Regions from separate parts of the Homo sapiens genome. Here all the other regions are linked to region 3. The links come from fine-mapping of genetic effects on gene expression. A gene starts in region 3. Each other region holds a variant in brackets. All regions are shown on one strand. Distances are between the middles of the regions.

Region 1 (2,617 bases), 320 kb after region 3:
TCAGGAAATCTTGCCTGAAGAAACTTTTCAACCCCCAAATAATTGTAAAAAGATTCTAATGGAGGAATTTGCAAGTGTGAAATATGTGGTAGACAAACTGCAACATGCCAGAGATTGGGGAATGGTTGCGAGGCTGAGAAATATAGACTGTAAAATGGTAGGGCTTAAACATTGAATAAAGGATCTCAATCTCAATCTTCAACTCTTTCTGCACATTTGAGTATTGCCAATTAAGGTGGGGGTAGGGACCAACAGGAAATATTTGTTTTATTTATTCTGTGTAATATTTTCTGTGTACTTCCAGTGGGGGCACAGAACTATATTTGTTCTATTAGAACAATATTCATTTTAATTTTTTCTATGTAATATTTTCTGTGCACCTCCAGTGGGGCATAGAACTATATATAGATAATAACTGAGGAGTTTGTGAGCCATGTCTTGAGCAGTTTAGAGCTAAGAATGTGGGAACAATTTTAGATATGGGACAGATATTCTACCATATAGTAAGAAAAGGACTGGGTTTATTTGGGAGTGGACAGTGTGGAGAGACATAAGCTCTGAATAATTCAGGATTGTAAAACCTAACATTATAAAACCTAACTCCTATTTGGAAATAAATAATATCACACTGGGAACCATTGACACTGAAAATTCAAAAAGGTACTTTTTCATCAATAAAAATATCAAAATAGGATTTTAAAACAGTGGAGAAGGCTCTCCTATAAGGCAGAAAACTTACACCAGCAGGAGGCATGGAGCCCACCAGTCTGGGAATCCTGCAAAATATGTTCCTGCTCTGGGAGATGAGTGGAATATAGTGACCACTAATGTTCCCATAATCATTACAGAAGGTCATTCTATTAATTTAACTTAGGAAAGTGGATTTTAAGAGAGGCTGGGTCAGCTTCTTAATCTGTTCCTTGTTTAGGGGTAGATTATAAAACAGATAAAGAGATATTAAGATGAGACTTTTTCTTGTTCCAACTGTACACTTCATTTATGGTTGAAGACAAGGAATTTTTATTTCAGCAAAGTCAAGAAGCCTTTTCTAAAAAAGTGTTGCATTTATATGAGATAATAGGGAACTCAAAAGTGAATATACAGGGAAGAGGATATGGACAAGTTAGAGAGACCTCAAAAATTAGAAAGTGTCCTAGACAGAGGCAGTGAGGGCATTGTGTGCCCACTTTGGCATACAGTTGCAAGGCCTAGCCCCTCCACAATAGCTATAAAAGGGTGATTAGCCAAAAAGCATGTGCTTAGTTACTTTTCTAAAGAAACCATTAGGTGTAATTGGAGCCCATGTCCAGATTCATCTTGGCTGTGATGAAGACAACCGTGTGTCTGAACCATCACGGCTGACATTGATTGAGTAAGAGCCCAAGTGCTGAAAACAACATATTGTCAGAATCAGTTCCAAACCCTCATATTAACTTCAGGGAATCTTTTGGCTGTCAAGGGCAATGCTGTTCTTTTGGCACCAGGCATAAAAGACCAATGTAATCCCTGGAGAATGGGGGTAACTACTTTCTTTCCTGAAACTCCTGTCTCTCTCACCTTGGGGCAAAAAGGTGTTGACCAGAATGAAAAGTCCCACCGGGAACGTGAACAATATCT[G/A]GCTTATTCGACGACCCATATGATTCAGTGTCAAAAGGGAAACACATCTGGCTGTGAATGTGACAGCTCCACAGAGAATCTGGAACAGGGAGACATTGCTCCCTAAGTGCTGCAAGTTGAGTATCAGGCCATAAAAGGGTACAGTGATTGCGAATCTGAAGTGAATAAAAAGGACAAAGACATATTCAATAAGATTTAAAGCCTAGGAAACATTTTCTGAGATTTTGAAGGTAAGTCCTACAAATGATTATAATATTGACCCAATTGGCAAATGGTGTTTTTCCTTTTAAAAAAGGGATCATTCTGTTTTATAGACTATTTCCTTTTCAGACAATGGTCTTAAAATAACATAAAATAATTGTGGAACATGATGTTAAAATGGGCTCTTCATTGTCATAATTTTTACTGGGTCCTGAAGAAAAGAGATAGCAAACATACATATTATCAATGAAAGTTAAAAACCTACCCATGTAGAAAAAGTAATGTGAAATCTGAATTCATCAGTCAACTGGATGATATAAATGATTGGACATGGGTAGGGTTAGATGATGGAAATTAGGGGAATAGTTTCTTTGCAGCAGTTCAGCATTGTGTGAGTCAAACTTCTCTGCTCCCGTTCAGAGACCTTCTTTACCTTAGTCTTAGTAATCCCTGGAGAATGGGGGTAATACTTACTTGTATAATCTGGCCCACAGATTATACAAGTGGAGAGGAATCATAACACATTTACATAGAGAAAAGGTCAACAATATCTTTTTACCCTTCTTACCATATCAACCACCAAGGTCAGCTTGAACTACAGAAACAGAGAATCTCTAACTCTGAATGAATATCTAACCTTCTTTACCTTACCTTAGTGAGGCTGCAAGGGCACTGTAGGCAAGAGCTTTCCATGTGTTTCCTGGACTTGAGTGCAGTGGCCTGACATTTCTAAGCAGTCTAAGAGCTACAAGCAATGGGTTATTAAATCATCAGAATTGAGATAAAGGGGCTGGCAGGT
Region 2 (2,617 bases), 360 kb after region 3:
GCCAGATCTCAGAGCTGGCAAGATTTATGATAAGAAAACTTAGATTTTATTCTAAGTGCAGTGGAATACTGTTGAGTGTCATCTAGCTCCTGGGGGGAAGAAAGACAGAAAAAACTTTCAAGCTTGAGAAGGCACAGATAATGAGATAAATTCGATGTATGGATTAACTGTGTGATATTAACAGGAGTCAAACACTAGCAGACGGTTCTTTTTAAAGAAGTGAGCAACATATTCTTAAAGGTTTTGTAACAGAACAAGGTAGTTATTTGTTAGAAATGCAGAAGTTCCTTCATTTGATAGGAGGTTGAACTTGATAACTTCTAGAGTTCCTTTACTATCTTCCAAAATATCCCTTCACTATTTTAGATGTTAGGGTCATCTTACAAATCTGAGCCATGGTTATTGAAATAAATTATTTTACAACTGGTCTCCTGGCTGCCACTGTTAGCTCTTACTAACAGTCTTTTCAACTCAACTGTCACAAACCCTATCATTGTCATATCCCTTATTAAACATTTCAAATTAAAATGTGGCACATATACACCATGGAATACTATGCAGCCATAAAAAATGATGAGTTCATGTCCTTTGTAGGGACATGAATGAAAATGGAAATCATCATTCTCAGTAAACTATTGCAAGGACAAAAAACCAAACAACGCATGTTCTCACTCATAGGTGGGAATTGAACAATGAGAACACATGGACACAGGAAGGGGAACATCACACTCTGGGGACTGTTGCGGGGTGGGGGGAGTGGGGAGGGATAGCATTAGGAGATATACCTAATGCTAAATGACGAGTTAATGGGTGCAGCACACCAGCATGGCACATGTATACATATGTAACTAACCTGCACATTGTGCACATGTACCCTAAAACTTAAAGTATAATAATACAAAAATAAAAAAAAACAAAAAAACATTTCATTGAAGTTTATTTTTCATTAAAAAATTTTTTTATTATACTTTAAGTTCTGAGGTACCTGTGCAGAATGTGCAGTTTTGTTACATAGGTGTACAAGTGCCATGGTGGTTTGCTGCACCCATTAACTTGTCATCTACATTAGGTATTTCTCCTAATGCTACTCCTCCCCTAGCCCTGCACTCCACGACAGGCCCTGGTATGTGATGTTCCCCTCCCTGTGTCCATGTGTTCTCATTGTTCAACTCCCACTTCTGAGTGAGAACATGCAGTGTTTAGTTTTCTGTTCCTGTGTTAGTTTGCTGAGAATGATGGTTTCTAGCTTCATCCATGTCTCTGCAAAGGACATGAACTCATCCTTTTTTATGGCTGCATAGTATTCCATGGTGTATATGTGCTACATTTTCTTAATCCAGTCTGTCATTGGTGGACATTTGGGTTGGTTCCAAGTATTTGCTATTGTGAATAGTGCCGCGGTAAACATAC[G/A]TGTGGATGTGTCTTTATAGTAGCATGATTTATAATCCTTTGGGTATATACCCAGTAGTAGGATTCTGGGTGAAATAATATTTCTGGTTCTAGATCCTTGAGGAATTGCCACACTGTCTTCCACAATGGCTGAACTAATTTACACTCCCACCAACAGTGTAAAAGTGTTCTTATTTCTCCACATCCTCTCCAGCATCTGTTGTTTCCTGACTTTTTAAATGATTGCCATTCTAACTGGTGTGAGATGGTATCTCATTGTGGTTTTGATTTGCATTTCTCTGATGACTGGTGATGATGAGCATTTTTTCCTATGTTGGTTGGCTGCATAAATGTCTTCTTTTGAGAAGTGTCTGTTCATATCCTTCGCCCACTTTTTGATGGGGTCGTTTGTTTTTTTTCTTGTAAATTTGTTTAAGTTCTTTTTAGATTCTGGATATTAGCCCTTTGTCAGATGGGTAGATTGCAAAAATTTTCTCCCATTCTGTATGTTTCCTGTTCACTCTAATGGTAGTTTCTTTTGCTGTGCAGAAGCTCTTTAGTTTAATTAGATCCCATTTGTCTATTTTGGCTTTTGTTGCCATTGCTTTGGTGTTGTAGATGTGAAGTCTTTGCCCATGCCTATGACCTGAATGGTATTGACTAGGTTTTCTTCTAGGATTTTTATGGTTTTAGGTCTTACTTTTAAGTCTTTAATCCATCTTGAATTAATTTTTGTATAAGGTGTAAGGAAGAGGTCCAGTTTCAATTTTCTGCATATGGCTAGCCTATTTTCCCAATACCATTCATTAAATAGGGAATCCTTTCCCCATTGCTTGTTTTTGTCAGGTTTGTCAAAGATCAGATAGTTGTAGATGTGTGGTGTTATTTCTGAGGCCCCTGTTCTGTTCCATTGGTCTATATATCTGTTTTGGAACCAGTACCATGCTGTTTTGATTACTGTAGCCTTGTAGCATAATTTGAAGTCAGGTAGCGTGTTGCCTCCAGCTTTATTCTTTTTGCTAAGGATTTTCTTAGCTATGTGGGGTCTTTTTTGGTTCCATATGAAGTTTAAAGCAGTTTTTTCCAATTCTGTGAAGAAAGTCAGTGGTAGCTTGATGGGGATAGCATTGAATGTATAAATTACTTTGGGAAGTATGGCAATTTTCACAGTATTGATTCTTTTTATCCATGAGCATGGAATGTTTTTCCATTTGTTGGTGTCCTCCCA
Region 3 (2,617 bases):
AAAAAAGAGAGAGGGAGTCTTGCTCTGCATCCCAGGCTGAAGTGCAGTGGAGCGATCTCGGCTCTTTGCAATCTCAGCTTCCCGGGTTCAAGCAATTGTCCTGCCCCAGCCTCCCCAGTAGCCGAGTAGCCGGGATTACAGGCATGAGCCACCAGTGCCCGGCGCATGTAACATTTTTTAACAGAGGATGAAATAGTCATGGATTTCCTACACTTCAGCCTGGGCGACACAGCAAGACTCCGTCTCAAAAAAAAAAAAAAAAAAAAAAAGAGTTAATCTATAATCTGAGAACAGAAGTTGTAAACTATATGTGACTCGCAGTCATATCTCTCTCGAGGCTTAAAGTGTTTTTTGGGCTTCCAATAGCTCTTAAATTTTTTTTTTTTTTTGAGACTCCGTCTTGCTTTGTCGCCAGGCTGGAGTGCAGTGGCGCGATCTCAACTCACTGCACCCTCCGCCTCCCGGGTTCAAGCGATTCTCCTGCCTCAGCCTCCTGAGTAGCTGGGACTACAGACGCCTGCCACCACGCCCGGCCAATTTTTTGTATTTTTAGTAGAGACGGGGTTTCGCCATGTTAGCCAGGATGGTCTCAATCTCCTGACCTCATGATCTGCCCGCCTCGGCCTCTCAAAGTGCTGGTATTACAGGCGTAAACCACAGCGCCCGGCCTAAATTTCATTATTTTCTGTAGCTTCTTGGCCTTTTGGCTAAGGCTCGTAAACATTTTTTTTTTATTTCTACACCAATTTCTGTAGATTATTATGAGAATTAAGGGAGAGAATTATATCAAGCGCTTAGCACAGTGTCTGGCATCTAGGAAGAAAGTAGTAAGTGATAGCATTTATTTATTTATTTATTTTATTTATTGAGATGGAGTTTCGCTCTTGTTGCCCAGGCATCTAGGAAGAAAGCAGTAAGTGGTAGCATTTATCAATCTATCTATCTATCTATCTATCTATCTATTATCTATCTATCTATCTATCTATCTATCTATCTATCTATCTATCTATCTATCTGTTGAGATGGAGTTTCGCTCTTGTTGCCCAGGCTGGAGTTCAGTGGCAAGATCTCGGGCCGCCTCCCAGGTTCAAGCAATTCAGATAGTTGCCGACCGGGCGCGGTGGCTCACTCCTGTAATCCCAACACTTTGGGAGGCCGAGGTGGGTGGATCACCTGAGGTTGGGAGTTTGAGACCAGCCTGACCAACATGGAGAAACCCCATCTCTACTAAAAATACAAAATTAGTCAGGTGTGGTGGCACATGCCTTTAATCCCAGCTACTCGGGAGGATGAGGCAGGAGAATCGCTTGAACCCGGGAGGCGGAGGTTGCAGTGAGCCGAGATCGCGCCACTGCACTCCAGCCTGGGCAACAGAGGGAGACTCCGCCTCAAAAAAAAAAGTTGTCGTTTGATGGCTGGGGGGCGGGGGTGAGGGGCGGGGCTTAGTGGTTCTCGCCCACGACGGCGAGGCCCAATCAGACCCGCGGAGCTGGTGGAGTTCCGCCCTCGCGGAGGAGGTGGTGTTCCGCCCTCCTAGTCGCAGCAAGCGCGGAACTGGGGTTGCGGCGTCTAAGTGTTTCCGGTGGATTCCCAGGGACTGTCGGAGGTGTGGACTCTGCCTGCCTACCTGGTCTGGGAAGATGTTCTACCATGTGAGCAGGGCTCAGGGTGGCGGCAAGGGCTGGGTGGAAAGGAAGAGCAAGGCCAGGCGCCGGCGCGAGACTCCCCTTGTCGTCCAATAACCTGCCAGCGCCTGGCCTGGTCGCCATCCCACTTTTCTCCGCAGATCTCCCTAGAGCACGAAATCCTGCTGCACCCGCGCTACTTCGGCCCCAACTTGCTCAACACGGTGAAGCAGAAGCTCTTCACCGAGGTGGAGGGGACCTGCACAGGGAAGTGAGTGTCGAGCTCACCGCACCGCCAGATCGTTCGATGCGCACACGGGGCGCTATACCTGCAACCCCTCCCCAACTCCTACTCGTCCTGCCACCCACTCTGGGGACCCCTCTCCTCTCTCAGGCAGCCAGTTGCTTCCTGCTTTGGGTTCCCAGGGCGCCCTCTGCAATGCTGGACAATAAGACTTCCTTCTCTCAGCTGAGATGGGTCATTCATTGACTCCTCAAACATTTTAAAAACCCTTGGTGTGTGCCAGGACCCGTGTTGGGCTCAGAACAAGGTAGAATGGGAACAAGATAGAATGAGGACAGCCCCTGTGGAGCTCACAGTGTAATCATTGTTCCTGTGTCTGCTCTCCCTCTGTCATTCTGCTGGTTTTCTCTTATCCCCTGTGCCCAGGGACCACACACCATGGGCCTCTATATATCTTCTGAATGAATGACCAGAAAAAGCAGATCGAGAGTTTGGGGGAGGAAGGAAGTAGCCTGGGATTTGACCATCTCTGGGCTTTGCACAGAGGGGCCTCTCTGATATTAATGAGCTGGGACCCAGCTCAGGGCAGTGGAGTACTTGGGCCTCCAGCATCAGAAAAACCTGCAGGAACATGCAGATTCCTGAGCCTCCTTATTCCCTACAGAATCAAGACTGTCTGGGGCAGACCTGAGAATCTGCATTTTAAGAAGATGATTCTCAGGCATCCCGAAGATTGAGATCTGTTGCC
Region 4 (2,617 bases), 180 kb after region 3:
TTATGGTGTTTACCTGCTGCTGCATACTATGCCATGGTGTGCCGGTCTCCACATTTTACCTAAACACTCATTCCCCCGGCTATGGGGATCTAGATTGTTGCCAACACCCATGACCTCAAACAATACTGCAGTGAATGTCCTTGTACACGTCTCCATAAGGGCCTTTGTGAGAAGTTCTCTGAGATACAGGCCCAAGAAGGGAATTACTGGTGTGTGTGTGTGTGTGTGTGTGTGTGTGTGTGTGTGTTCGTGGGTGTGAATGCTGCCAATTGCTTTCCAGAATGGTGGTACCAATTTCACTCCCACCAGCAGTGCATTTGAGACGTGAGGATATAGGGGTCCTGTATTCTAACATGGCCTGTAACACCTGCCATTACCTGGCTTTCTAATGCTGCCAGTTTAATGGCTGTAAAGTGCTATCTCATTTTTCTTTTTCTTTTTCTTTTTTTTTTTGAGATGGAGTCTTGCTTTGTCACCAGGCTGGAGTGCAGTCGTGCGATCTCGGTTCACTGCAACCTCTGCCTCCCGGGTTCAGGCGATTCTCCTGCCTCAGCCTCCTGTGTAGCTGGGACTACAGGCATGTGCCACCATGCCCAGCTAATTTTTGTATTTTTAGTAGAGATGCGGTTTCACTATGTTGGCCAGGATGGTCTCAATCTCTTGACCTCGTGATTCGCCCGCCTCAGCCTCCTAAAGTGCCGGGATTACAGGCGTGAGCCACCGCACCCAGCCACTATCTCATTTTTCACGTGGTGATTAATCTTCTGGATTTCTTTCTCTGTAAAATGTCTATTCATTTTCTTTGCCCATGTGTCTACTACTAGTGTTCCTTTCTTTTTCTTGTCGAAGGAGTCTTGTCAGTGTTAAAGGCGCAGAGGCTCATACCTGTAATCTCAGCACTTCAGGAGGCCAAGACGGGTGGATCGTTTGAGCTCACGAGTTTGAGACCAGCCTGGGCAGCATGGCAAAACCCTGTCTCTACAAAAAATACAAAAATTAGCTGGGCGTGGTGGTAAGCGCCTATAGTCCCAGCTACTCAGGAGGCAGAGGTGGGAGGATGGCTTGAGCCCGGGTGGTGGAAGTTGCCGTGAGCCGAGATTGCACCACTACACTCCACCCTGGGCAATAGAGCCAGACCTTGTCTC[GA/G]AAAAAAAAAAAAAAAAAAAAAAGAGTTGCAAATCTCTCCTCTCAATCTGTCATCTATCTGTTAAATTTGTCCATTGTGTCCTTCAGTAAGCAGAAATCCTTTTTGATATAATCAAATTTACATATTTACATGTCTATCTCCAAGCTCTCTTCTCAATTCTGTTTCTTCTTGCATCAAGAAAAGCTGCAAACAAATTTAACAGGGTGTCCTTTGTTAATTCCCTAATGAGATATATCTTTTGGTGCTATTCTGAGTGGTGTCTTACTTTTCAAAACAATATTTTCTAGATTATTGATTCTAAGCTATTGCTATTGATATTTTGGTAATTTGATTTTGTATCTAGCATCCTTGCAGAACTCTCTTATTAGTTTTAATTGTTTGTTGATTTTGTTCATTTATCTAGGTAGATGAACATATTCCAAGTAATGAGATTTTTAGAACATATTCTAAGTAATGAGATTTTTAACTTTTCTTTTTTAATTTTTAATTTTCTTATATCTTTTTCTTTCCTACTAGAGTGGTATTGGTCAGGCCCCCGAATACTGTGTTAAATAGTTGATTCTGATGCTGAAGAGAATGCATATACATTTTCTCATTATATATAGTGTTTGGTTTTGTGTTCAGATGCTCTGCTTACCTCTCTGGGTTTGCACTTTTCCTTAGATGATTGGCCTAGATTTTCCTTACTATCTTCTTTCTTTTTTTTTTTTTCTGAGACAAAGTTTCACTCTGTTGCTCCAGCTGGAGTACAGTGGCATGATCTTGGTTCACTGCAGCCTCAACCTTCTGGGGTCAAGTGATCCTTCGCTCCTCAACTTCCTGAGTAGCTGGGACTACAGCCACATGCCATCACACCTAGCTAATTTCTGTATTTTTTGTAGAGATGGGTTTTCGCCATGTTGGTCTTGAACTCCTGGGCTCAAGCAGTTTGCCCACCTCTGCCTCCCAAAGGCATTACAGGTGTGACCTGCCACACCCGGCCCCATTTTCCTTACTATCTTTCTAGCTCTTTGGTGCTTTTTTTTTTTTTTTTTTTTTTTTTTTTTGAGATGGAGTCTTGCTCTGTCACCCAGGCTGGAGTATAGTGGTGCAATCTCGGCTCATTGCAACCTCCACTTCTCGGGTTGAAGCGATTCTCCTGCCTTGAGTAGCTGGGATTACAGGCGCATGCCACCACACCCAGCTAATTTTTGTATTTTTAGTAGAGACGGGGTTTCACCATGTTGGCCAGGCTGGTCTCGAGCTCCTGACCTTGTGATCTGCCCACCTCGGCCTCCCAAAGTGCTGGGATTACAGGCATGAGCCACCACGCCCGGCTGCTTTTTGGTGCTTTTAAGGTTATCTTTTCCTTACTATCTTTCTAGCTCCTTGGTGCTTTTAAGGTTATTTAAAAATATACCTTTTTTTGGGATGATTTTCGGTGTAATTTTGTTATTTTAATGGAAATAGAAATCCTTTTTCTAATCAATT

Alleles and levels. Positions count from the first base shown, and alleles are read on the strand shown. Sizes are in standard deviations (SD) of each study's normalised expression. Not every link is listed here.
As copies of G replace A in region 1, the expression in thyroid of the gene that starts at base 1,572 in region 3 goes down (moderate effect, 0.62 SD a copy in GTEx).
For the expression in fibroblasts of the gene that starts at base 1,572 in region 3, allele A in region 2 goes with a lower level than allele G (large effect, 0.90 SD a copy in GTEx).

Evidence for each region.
Region 1: its variant is fine-mapped to the expression of POLR2G in thyroid (GTEx, PIP above 0.99).
Region 2: its variant is fine-mapped to the expression of POLR2G in fibroblasts (GTEx, PIP above 0.99).
Region 4: its variant is fine-mapped to the expression of POLR2G in whole blood (INTERVAL, PIP above 0.99).

Annotation. Positions count from the first base shown.
Region 1 is chr11:63,081,686-63,084,302 of GRCh38, forward strand. It overlaps SLC22A24 (solute carrier family 22 member 24), which reads right to left. Exons shown (of 10, transcript NM_001136506.2): 7 at 1,558-1,772. Among named protein-coding and RNA genes, the nearest start is that of SLC22A24, 61 kb to the right of the region's middle. The variant G/A (reference allele first, on the strand shown) is at 1,618.
Region 2 is chr11:63,124,210-63,126,826 of GRCh38, forward strand. The region is part of intron 2 of SLC22A24 (solute carrier family 22 member 24); the gene reads right to left. Among named protein-coding and RNA genes, the nearest start is that of SLC22A24, 19 kb to the right of the region's middle. The variant G/A (reference allele first, on the strand shown) is at 1,411.
Region 3 is chr11:62,760,009-62,762,625 of GRCh38, forward strand. It overlaps POLR2G (RNA polymerase II subunit G), which reads left to right and starts at 1,572. Exons shown (of 8, transcript NM_002696.3): 1 at 1,572-1,652; 2 at 1,787-1,896. The coding sequence starts at 1,641. RefSeq lists an enhancer at 1,581-1,780.
Region 4 is chr11:62,939,853-62,942,469 of GRCh38, forward strand. The region is part of intron 4 of LOC105369333 (a long non-coding RNA gene); the gene reads left to right. Among named protein-coding and RNA genes, the nearest start is that of CHRM1, 20 kb to the left of the region's middle. The variant GA/G (reference allele first, on the strand shown) is at 1,146.